3 linked regions of the Homo sapiens genome follow. The protein of the gene in region 3 purifies or fractionates together with the protein of the main gene of each other region. This does not show direct contact. Each region holds a gene or a part of one and is shown on either strand. Other genes may lie near its edges.

Region 1 (3,747 bases), on a different chromosome or scaffold from region 3:
AGGCACTTACATAATAATGGCTCATTGTGTACATATTATTTTCCAGGTGACATTGTCCATCATTTGGTAAAACAATGCCACCAAGTTTCCCATCTCCAGCAAAGTGAAACCCGGCATCTGTGGAAAACACCAGCAGCCGTGTAACATTCCTCCAGCCAATCAGTGACTTGAAAAGAAAAGGATTTCAATTTTAAAACACTATTCACAGTAATTCAACAAAAATCCTTTAATTTTCATATAGGCCACCATTGTATTTTTAACCTAATTCTGTATTTTCTGTGTCTTCTCTTTATACAATGGTAATTATCTTGCTGAGAAACACACAAAGCCCACTGAATGAAGCTCTTCCATCCCATGTACAACGATATCTTGCCTGACCATCCGTATCTCTCAATCTCTCAGTTCTTTTTAAAAACTGTTTTTTTGTTTTGTTTGGTTTGGTTTAGTTCTGCTTATCATCATATCTCCAGCAGCTAGCAAGCCAGCACACTGCTTGGCAAGCAGTAAGCCCTTGATGAGCATTTGCTGAATAAATGAAAGTGTCTGAGCCTATCCTTACTTTACCCCACTGCTGCTGTCTTGTCCCCATCCACCCATCTCTGCTCTATGTTCTATGCCATGCACCTTCTTTATCAGCCCACCATATGAGGCTTCCTTTTTTTATAACAGAAATAAGTATCTTGTTTAAGGATAATTTCACCCATTCTAACTCCTCAATCAGTACTGTTTATGCACTCATTTACTTTATCCTTGCCCTTTCCAATAAAGAATCTAAAGTAACTGTAAAATCTTCTTGTCACTATGGTAATTTATAATTATAAAATCATAGGACTATAGGAATTTACCTGCTTTCGTTAATTTATTTAATACGTCTGTTTAGATCTTCATAAGACAGTAAAATACTTTAAGGTGGGAATCACATTTATTAATACTGGCAATCTTTCAAAAGTGGAATGTCTGATTCTTTTGCATCTAGAGGAGTGGATCAGCATGACCAACACAGAAAAACAGCCACAATCAAGGGTGTTATGGCTTGTTTAATACCACAGGTTAAGGCCTAGTTAGAGGCAGCCCAGAGAATGCCCTCCCCACAACGAGCTGCTAACAGGCTCACACATCAATGGCTAGTAAGAAAAGAGGTGTAAGGCTAGGTACTACCTGGAATGCTACTTGCTTCGGCTATAACAGCAGGGACTAACCTTAAATTGCAAACACTCTAGTGAAAAGTCGAAAGTAATAACAATATAGGAATTAGTATTTGCTGAATGCTCATTGGTACTTTATAGAGATTGATGCATTTTAACTTCACAAGAGCCCTATGAGGTAGATACTATCATGATCCCTTCTTAAAGAGAAGAAAACAGCCCTGGAGAGGCTGAGTAAATTGCCCAGCATCAGTGGTGATAGAAAAATTCTTAATTACTATCCATATTCCTTCACTTATTATTTTGGGCATCAATTAGCACCTTAGCAAAAATTGACTGAAAAATAACCACTAAGAGGCCTCTAAAATCAAAGAAGGTCATCTAGAGAATGGGGGCACTGGAGGGAACAAAAATGAGACAAGAGTAGGTACGCAGGACAAACTTGACATGACAATGTCTTCTAGTTTCAGCCTCAGCCACATCATTAAAGTGTCATCTCAAAATACATAGCTGCTACATGGATCATAAAATACAAATTATTGAACCAATAGGGATGGGCTTGCTACTGAAAATCTTACAATTAAAATTACAAATATTGTATCACTTCTCAAAATACATCTATTCATATAGGTTAAAAACTAGAGCTTAAAAAGTTCTCTCTTTTTGAATTACTAAGACACAGGAGAAAGATGTGTCTTTCAAAGACAGTGAGAAGAAAACTGACCAAAGGAAAATGATACAAGACACTCTCCCTTTGAGCAATTTCAAGGTTCCTGGTGATGCCTCAGATAATAACATCAATTCTATCTCTAGTACAAAGCCAGAAAGTTAGGACACATGGGCTTTTCTAAAATCCAGACCACCAGCTACAGTACAGAGAGGTTGCCCCGCTGTTTCAAATGGTTAGCATTCTGTCTTTTAAAAGCCCGCATGAATAAACTAACTGTGTGGTTTGCATAAAGATTAAATATGCTTTTATAAAGGCACTTTATGTATACAGGCAATTTAAGGGTTTACTTAAAATTACTTCTCTAAGATAATCAAATCTATGAAAATTAAGGTCAATTTTTCTATTATCATAGTAAAATCACACTTAAAATTCACACACATAATAGAAACAATATCCCCTGATAGGAAATGAATGCGCTTACTCCACAAACTGCAACTTGCATGATGGCATCGAAACCACCTTCTGGAGAATCCAAATTTCCAGATATGCGCTGTTTTCCAACAAGTTCATTAAATACTTCTCCTTTATTAGTAAGACTGAGCACATTTTTGTAGCTAAATGGGCTGGTGCAGTTCTGTTCACTTGTGCAAGGGTTCCTGAGCTTAGCTGGTGTTGTGCTAATGTAAGGCATCACAGTCTTTTCCACAAATGAGCCAAATCCTGCCAAGAAAAAAATGGTACATAAATGAATGAATGGATGGATAGATGGAAAGACAGAGATTTGCATTGTTTAAAAAATTCATCTATGTTACCAAATGTAGGTTACTATGGACTGAATGTCTGTGTTACCCCAAAATTCCTACATTGAAAACCTAATTCCCAACATGATGGTATTAGGAAGTGGTTCCTTTGGAAGGTGATTAGATCATGAGGGCAGAGCCCTCATGAATGGGATTAGTAACTGATACAGTTTGGGTATCTGTCCCCGCCCAAGTCTCATGTTAAAATGTGATCCCCAATGTTGAAGGTACGGCCTGGTGGAAGGTATTTCGATCATGGGGGCAGATCAATCCCTCATGGCTTGGTGCTATTCTGACCACAGTGAGTGAGTTCTCATGAGATCTGTTATTTAAAATTGTGTGGCATCTCTCCCCAACTCTTGCTCCTGCTCCCACCATGTGAGAAGCCTGCTCCCCACTTTGCCTTCTGCCACGATTGGAAGCTTCCTGAGGCCTCCCCAGAGGCCTTGCTGATGCTAGCGCCATGCTTCCTGTAGAGCTTGCAGGACCGTAAACCAATTAAACCTCTTTTCTTCATAAATTACCCAGTGTCAGATATGTCTTTATAGCAACGTAAGAATAGACTCCTACAGTGACCTCATCAAAGAAGCCCCAGAGAGCTGCTGTCTCCCTGCTGCTATGTGAGTACATCGCAAGAAGGTATCATCTATGAACCCAGAAGAGGGACCTCACCAGATGCTCAATCTGCCTGGATCTTGGACTTCTCACCTCCAGAGCTGTGAGAAATAAATTTCTGTTGTTCATAAGCCACCCAGTTTATAGTATTTTCTTAAAGCAGCACAAATGGACTAAGACCTAAGACAATCTTTTTATTTTGCCTCCCTACTTTAAAAATAACTCACATTCATTTTCTTGGCACACCAGCTCTCAATAATGACATGCTGAACAAATGAATAAACAAATATTCTAGAATTCTGGCCATTTTAAAAAACACTAATTTGATAGGAGCTCCCTAATGCCATGGTCCTTGAATTATGCTTACAGAATAAAAGAACATTTTAAGCAAGTGCTATTTTTAAATGTTTCCACTAAAATAGGGCTAATTTTTGAAAGGCAGCTCTTAGGCCTCATAACTGTCAAATCTTTCTAATATTCTGTTGCTAAACCTCTAGAGCAACAGGAGTGGAGAGAA
Region 2 (3,747 bases), on a different chromosome or scaffold from region 3:
GCCTCTGCGCTTTCCCCATCAAGTTCTCTGAACCCACCTTCTCCATTCACAGACACCCCCATCCCTGCCCACAGCCTGCCCCCTCAGCATGCAAGTCAGCATCAACCACAGAGGACCCCGTGCAGGTGGGCACTGCAGGGCTGGAAGTTGGATTTTTTGAGACTTCATGTGACATAATGTGGAGGAGAGAGATAGTAGCAGGAGGGTCAGAAGATGGGAAGGGAAGGCCAGTGGCAGAGGCCAGGAGGAAGGCAGAGTGAGGAGGGTGGAGGGGGTGTCACTCACCATGCATGTAGGGGTAGACTGTAACAGGCCCTGAGCGGGCACTGCCCGCCTGGTACCAGCTGTAGTCGGCATGCTGCACCCAGGCGCTGGGGGCACAGTGGTACACGCCTTCATCCTCGGGCCCCAAGCTGTGTAGTCTCAGCCGATGGCTTCGGGGCCCCACCAGCTCTACGCTGACAGGGCCTCCTCCAGGCCGGACTCCCAGCTCTGCCACACCATCCTGGCCTACGCCACCCACCAGCTGGGCAGGGACAGAGCTGAGCTCTCCGTCCTCTGGTCGCTCCACCCACCAGCTGGCGGCCAGCCGCAGTCCTGGGGGGCCACCCCGCACAGAGATGTTGCACAGCAGGGAGGCAGTCTCCCCGCGGTACACTGTGCCTCCTGCTAGCCATGCCACAGCCTCCAGCACCACACCTGCAGAACAAAGGACATGGGGTCAGAGGGTGCAGGGCCAGGGAGCATGGGGTTAGGGCTGCCGCCAAGCACCGCCCCAGGAAACTCAGGGTATTCCCACAATCTTGGTAGAAGAGGAGCGTGAGGCTGTGGCCTGCAAACAGCTGACGGAGAGGGAGGGGTCATGGAAACAGAAGGAAAAGGGGTTGACAATCCTCGAACCCCGTCCAGGGCCCAGCCCCCTCTCACCTTCCTCCCGCACATGTACAGGGAGAGGCCGGGAACGGGCACTGGCTGCTTCACGAAGCCGGGTCCCAGACCCTCGAACATAGGCTTTGGCGAGGCAGCGGTAGGTGCCCGCATCACCAGGCCTGGCAGCCTCTAGCCGTAGCCGGTATGTTCTGGATGCCACCTTCTCCATGGCAATGTGTCGGCCCTCATAGCCAGGGCCCAGGCTGCCCACACCCTCTGTGTCCAGCTGGGCTACCAGGCGGCCGGGCCCAGGTGCCCCCGCAGGTGCCATCTCCCAACCTACAGAGTATGCAGCATGACGGCCTGCTGGGGGAAGTGCCCCTGACACATTGCACAGCAGTTCCAAGGGCTCCCCTGGGCCGATCCGACGTTCACCAGGCCCCACTGTCACTGCCAGCTGGCTGGCTGAAACACAGGTAGGGGAAGAGGTGTCATGGAGGCAGGAGGGGACACAGAGGCACCCGATTCCCCAACTTCCTGTTTCCTACTTGACAGCAGCAACTTCAAAACCTCCTGTCTCCCCCTCACTAGGTATGACCATCTTTCTATTTAGGGGCTTGAATCTCACCCCTCAGCATGGGCCTCCTATCTCTATACCCAATTTCTGAGCAGAGAAAACCCATCAAGGGCCGGGGGAGAGAAATGCTAGCAAGGCTGCTCACTCTGTGGAAGATGAGTTCCTTGGAGTCAGATGATGGCTATCTGGTACCCCCTGTGGCCACAGTGCCCACCAGGATACTGTCCCTCCCAGCTCCCACAGTGGGATGTATAAGTGGCACTTACACAGCGTCTGCACATCCACGTGGGCCAGGACGGCCCTTTTCTCTGCAATCTGGGCCCAGCTGCCATCAGGATCCTGAATCCACTCAGCGGCAGTGCAGTGGTAGGTGCCTGCGTCCCCTGCCTGGGCACCCCCTACTACCATGCGGTACCGATCGGTCCCTTCCTTGCCCAGACGAAGCTCCCCTGCAGCCAATCGCTCAGCATAGGGAGCTCCAGCCTCCACGGCCAAGTCTGACCGGATTCCCACCACTTCCTGCAGAGTTGACCGCCCAACTGGTGCCTCGGGCACAGATCGCCCAAAGGACACTGCCAGGTGTGTGTGCTTCTGTGTGCTTGTCCTCGCCAGGCAGCCCAGTGCCAGCTCCTGCCCCTCATGCACCGTCATGCGTGGGGGTGAGGTTGGGGCCTGGCGGCCTCGGGGCCCTGGGGGGGCAGCAGACACCTGGAGGACATCTGGAAGAACTGGAGAGAACAGCTGGAGTGAGGGAGGGCTGGGAGCTGGCAGCCCTTGTTACTGTTTCCTGTGTATAGCCTATCTCCCTAAATAAACTGTGAGCTCCCAGAGGGCAAAGATCGCATGTTGTATTATTTCTTCTGTAACTCAGTGGTGCCAAGGGCAGTACTGGGCACAGCACAGGCGCTCAATAAATACTTGTAGAATTTCATAGAACCAGCCCATCGCCTACTCACCCTTATGTTTGAGACTGACCTCTGTTTGAAATACTGAGAAAAGCGGCTCTTTCTTCTCAGAAGACAAAGAAACTTAAGAGAGTGAGAATGTCACATGGTCTAACTCCTTCCCTAACTCTACTCTCTTTCCCAGATCTGGGTCCTGTACTGTCCAGGAGTAGAGGCTATTCAACCCAACAGTCTTCTTCGTTCTTGGGAATGGAAAGTGGACTGGACAACTTAAGGACATTTCTTCTCCCAGGAGGGGTCTTAATATGATAAGATGAGCACTGGCCTGGGTGAGGAACTCTGGGTTTGAGTCCCACATCAGCCACTGAGTTATTGGGTGACTTTGTGCAAATCACTTAACCTCTTTGGGCCTCAAGTTCCTTGGCTACAAAACCTAAGGGGCAACTAGATAGGTCACTTGTGGCCTTGACTTTCTGCCTTGAGAGGGTGTGTGGCTCCACCCCGTCCCAGGGCCCAGTACCTCTCAGCTCCACCTTGCCGCTGTAGCTGCCCAGGTAGCGGGTATCAGTGGAGGGGGTGTGGCACTCATAAATGCCGGCATCCTGGGCCTGCAGGCGGGCAATCTTGAGCACCACGGCATCACCTTGTAGGCGCTGCACCTGCACCTCACCCGCCACCACTCGGGACTTGAAGACAGCATAGGAGAACTGGGTATCCTTGGTACTGACAATGCCCAGTGCAGTATCTGGGGCCTCGGGCCTATACAGGAACCACTCGAAGTTCTGCTGGGCAGGGCCCTCATAGCCGGTCACATTGCAGGAGATGGAGACAGCTGTGCCAGCCACGCGGTACAAGGGCCCCTCGGGGACCAGCACCTCCCGGGCCCAGCATCCCATTCCTGTAGGGAAAGGCAGAAGGAGTTGGAGATGCCTGGTTCCTCATTCCATGCCCTCTGCCGCCACAAGCACCATTCTTGATCTCTGCCTACAAAAGGAAAGGAGACCTGGGAAAGCTTGTCCACAGCTTGGACCCTGTTCTGAGAATAGGAAAGGGATGCTGTGATATAAGACACCTGGATCTCAAGGAGGTGGCATGGGCCCAGGATTGCCTTGGCATCCAGATGCATCCCATTTCTGGCGGACTAGAAGCAGAGCACCTGAAGGCAGAAAGGAGTACATCTGATTCCTGACCTAACCAGGCCTTGGTTCCAACTGAACCTTGATCTGTCCCTGCCACTCACCCACCTCCATGTCTGCCATTCCTTCCTCAGCACCTGGCAAGGGGAGCCTTCTGGCTAGGGGACTCTGAGACTACATGTCCCTCTCCTTTGCTTGAGGGGAGCTGGCAGTCTTGCTCAGAAGTGCTAGTTGGCTCAGCTGTGTCACCTGGGCGAGA
Region 3 (3,747 bases):
TTGGCGGCAACTTTCCCTGTGGTTCTGCAGCATCATCTCCCAGTCTGGGTCAGAGGCCTCTCCTTAGCCTCTTAGCCCCCAAGCCTCTCCCCGTAACTGCACCTATCACCCTCAAACCATTGTCTGGCTGCCTGTCTCCTCCCACACTGGTCCCTGAGCAGAAACAAGGACTAATCCATGTTTTTCAGCTCCTACCCCTAATGAAATACCCTAATAGATACTGAAAAATGTTTTTGAACCAATGAGACAAGTCTACTGATAATAAACAGGCAAATAACAGCAATGTGCTAACAGTGGCTGTTTCTGGTGAGCAGAATTTTGAGGTCTGTTCCTTTCACTTCTTGGTATTTCGGTTGTTTCTGTAATGACTGTATCTTGCTTTTGTAATCATAAAGGACAGTAAAGGAAACTTCATTTTGAAAATAATACAAAGGGATTCGGGGACTTCAAAAGAAGGTGACTCTCCTCGTCCACTCCAGAGAATCAGGAAAGGAGTGTTTAAAGACCCACAGAATTCCTACAAGTGACGTTGGGGGGGGGCCAGCCAGCCAGGGCGCATGCCGGCCAGCGAGTGGGGTGGGCTCTGGGTCCGGGAGAAGTCAGATCAGTGCTCTGTACAGGGCCTTGAGGGCAAGACGAGGAATTTCGACTTAGGTCCTTGAATCTGGAGAGCTACAGAAAGTTTGTGAGCTCAGGAGAAGCGCTCCGAGCTCGGCATCTGGAGCAGTTCAAGGCAGCAGCGAGCAAGTCCAAAGACGCAGGAGGGAGGGTGGGGTGGAGGAGTAGAGAGAAAACAGAAGCCGTCTACAGACCCTTTTTCCCTCTGGGGCAACTAAACCTCAAGTGCAGGAAGCGCTTGGGGACTGCCCAGCCCTCAGCTGTGTTATTATTCGGTGATAGGTATTTGCTAATTACTTCCAAAAGCCTCCCATCTGTCATCCCACCCAGACTGCGCGCTTCTAATTCCTCCTACCCCACATGCTGTGCCCAATGAAAAGTATGGTCAGCGAGCGAAGGTTTGCAAGGAGACAGACGAGGGCGAAATTAAGCCAGGCGGCTTCCCTTTAAATCCTCGCAAAGCAGAAGGGCCCCTCACTCTGGCAGCAGGCCTTGGCCAAGGGGCCTTTAGCCCTGACGACCCGGGGAAGAGTCTCCCAAAGCAGAACGCCCGGTCCGGCGCCCAGACCAAACGCGGGGGAACCGGAAGGGCGAGGCCTCCACGTAAGTCCGCGGTAAAAGTGGCAGGGAGTGGCTGCCTGCAAAGACCCCAAGACGGCTTGAAGAAGGAGTGGGTGGCGGGTGGGGGTTAGGGCGACTAGGCGGGGAAACAGGGAGAGGGTCGGGCTCCGCGGGGCAGCTGGGGCCGGGGCTCGCCGACCTGGGCGGGGGCGGGGGGCGGGGGGGGTGCGGCCCGGGCGGGGCCGGTGGGGCGGGAGGCGTGGCCGGCGGGGGGAGTGGGGGCGGCTTTTCCCGGCACATGCGCACCGCAGCGGGTCGCGCGCCCTAAGGAGTGGCACTTTTTAAAAGTGCAGCCGGAGACCAGCCTACAGCCGCCTGCATCTGTATCCAGCGCCAGGTCCCGCCAGTCCCAGCTGCGCGCGCCCCCCAGTCCCGCACCCGTTCGGCCCAGGCTAAGTTAGCCCTCACCATGCCGGTCAAAGGAGGCACCAAGTGCATCAAATACCTGCTGTTCGGATTTAACTTCATCTTCTGGGTGAGTGAGCGCGACTGCCGCGCGCTCCTCTCAGGGCCCACCTGTTCGCGGGCCCCGGACACTGGCCGCGGCCGCGAGTGCCGGCAGCTGGCACTGCCCGCACCGGGCAGGCACCGGGCGGGAAGAGAGAGCGCCCTGCGGCTGCCAGCTGGCTCCAAGGCCGGGTCCAGAGCCGGGCGGGACGGCCGCGACGGGCGCATTCGGGTGGGGGCTCATCACCGCCCAGCCGGCGTGGGGAGCCGGGCCCTCTTGAGATGAGGCGTGCGGGAGGGTCCTGAGCACTTTAGCTCGCCTAGGATTTGAGCTGGGGTGTGTGTCTGCTCCCAGCTCAAGTCCCTCCGAGTGCCAGAGAGGAAGGCAGGGAGAAGCGGAGCACCCCTCTTTGGGCCAAGGCCAAGGAGGACTGTGGTGAGCAGTATGGCTTGTGACCGGGTGGGGTCTCCCAGGTAGTAGGGGGCGCCAGGAAGGGAGGGTGCGGGCACGGCGAGAGCTCAGCCAAGAGCGGCTCTCACTTTTACGCAGGAGCGGCAGGGGTGCCTCGGCCGCGGGTCCGGCCCCGGGACCCAGTCCCTGAGAGTCGGGGGCCCCTCCACCCTTGAGGAGGAACCTCGCAGGCCCCCGTTCCCTCAGACTTTGATTCTGAGCCACCGTGAGAGCGCCGAACTCCCTGGTAGCTCCCTGAAAGACTAGCTTGTCTTGATTTCTTTCAAGGACGATAAGTATCTTCACTGGAGAGAACTCAGAGTTCGGGAGAGGAGGGGGCAGATACCTATCTGCGCCTCTAGTGGGATGAGTCCTGTGTGTGCATTTCCGGGAGAGATCAGGTGCCAGCCAGCTGCCCGCCCAGGAGAGCCTTGGCCTTGCCCTCTCCCCTCCCCGCCAGCCCAGGCGGCCCACCCAAGGCCAGGCAGGGCGCAGAGCGGACGTTCATCTGGAGAGGCCAGCGGGGCCAGGAGCTCCAGAGACACCTGCTGCAGGCCACTCAGCCTCTACAAATGGGAAGGCTGAGAGGCGACAGAAGCAAGGAATAGGAAACCCTTGTGTCCTTGTTTCTATAGCCACATTCCCTGCACACACATGACAATACTTGCCGCTCTGCAGGCAGGAAGAGAGTCTCTATGCCACTCTCAAGATAGATGGATGTAGAAACAGGTGCATGCCACCAGAGTCTTGTAACAAAAAAGTGCACTTGGCCAGGCACAGTGGCTCATGCCTGTAATCCCAGCACTTTGGGAGGCTGAGGCAGGAGGATCGCTTTCATCCAGGTTCAAGACCAGCCTGGGTAACATAGTGAGACCCCCATCTCCACAAAAAAATAAAAAATTAGCTGGGCGTGTTGGCATGCACCTGTGATCGCAGCTACTCAGGAGGCTGAGATGAGAGGATGGCATGAGCCTGGGAGGTCAAGGCTGCGGTGAGTCATGATTGCACCACTGCACTTAGCCTGGGTGACCTAGTGAGCCCTGTCTCAAAAAAAGTAGAAAAGAAACAAATGCACTTATTCCCCCTGGAGCTGGTCACTGAGGTCCCCACAAGCCTCCTTAGGGAAATCTTCTAAGATTCACTCCTCCCCAGAGCTGAAGGGGTGGTTGAACAGTTTTTCCAATTTGCAGAGACTGACTTCCCCCAGTGCATCAGTCACCATAACACACACCCCAGTGAGGACGGCATATAGGTGTGCTCCTTCCCAACCCTTGACTTGCTTTAAAAAGACCCTGCTGGCCGTGGGCACCCCTCCTCCTGTGTTGCCACCCACCCCAGCAACCACCCAGCTGCCACGCTTAGCTTCTTTCTTTCACCAATCCCTGGCAGCAGAAAAGTATGCGGGAAGGCAGCTGGCCTCACCCACCCTTGAACTTTGGGAGTTTTCCTCTCCCCTCCCAGGTACAGTCTCTCCCGGCTGGTGTGTTGGTTAGTCCTCAGCTGTCTGCCTAGACTGCATCCAGGTTTGGGACTGCAGGGAAACACAGACTGCCACAGTGTGCCTCCCTACCCCCATCTGCCCCATGGCATATGCAGGAAGCTGATGCGAG

Evidence for each region.
Region 1: the proteins of CD9 (region 3) and ITGB1 purify together in Homo sapiens (co-immunoprecipitation; 5 studies listed by BioGRID and IntAct, with this or other methods). This does not show direct contact.
Region 2: the proteins of CD9 (region 3) and IGSF8 purify together in Homo sapiens (affinity purification with mass spectrometry; 7 studies listed by BioGRID and IntAct, with this or other methods). This does not show direct contact.

The regions. Positions count from the first base shown.
Region 1 is NC_000010.11:32,923,575-32,927,321, forward strand, and holds part of ITGB1 (integrin beta-1 isoform 1A precursor), read right to left. Parts: intron 2,536-3,747; coding exon 2,297-2,535; intron 167-2,296; coding exon 11-166; intron 1-10.
Region 2 is NC_000001.11:160,091,997-160,095,743, forward strand, and holds part of IGSF8 (immunoglobulin superfamily member 8 precursor), read right to left. Parts: exon of another isoform or gene 3,425-3,747; intron 3,251-3,424; coding exon 2,873-3,250; intron 2,176-2,872; coding exon 1,714-2,175; intron 1,336-1,713; coding exon 928-1,335; intron 700-927; coding exon 286-699; intron 1-285. UniProt on the Homo sapiens protein: Member of the immunoglobulin superfamily (IgSF) that links tetraspanin-enriched microdomains to the actin cytoskeleton and plays several important roles in innate and adaptive immunity.
Region 3 is NC_000012.12:6,198,852-6,202,598, forward strand, and holds the start of CD9 (CD9 antigen), read left to right. Parts: upstream 1-1,548; 5' UTR 1,549-1,648; coding exon 1,649-1,714; intron 1,715-1,990; exon of another isoform or gene 1,991-2,041; coding exon of another isoform or gene 2,042-2,122; intron 2,123-3,747. UniProt on the Homo sapiens protein: Integral membrane protein associated with integrins, which regulates different processes, such as sperm-egg fusion, platelet activation and aggregation, and cell adhesion.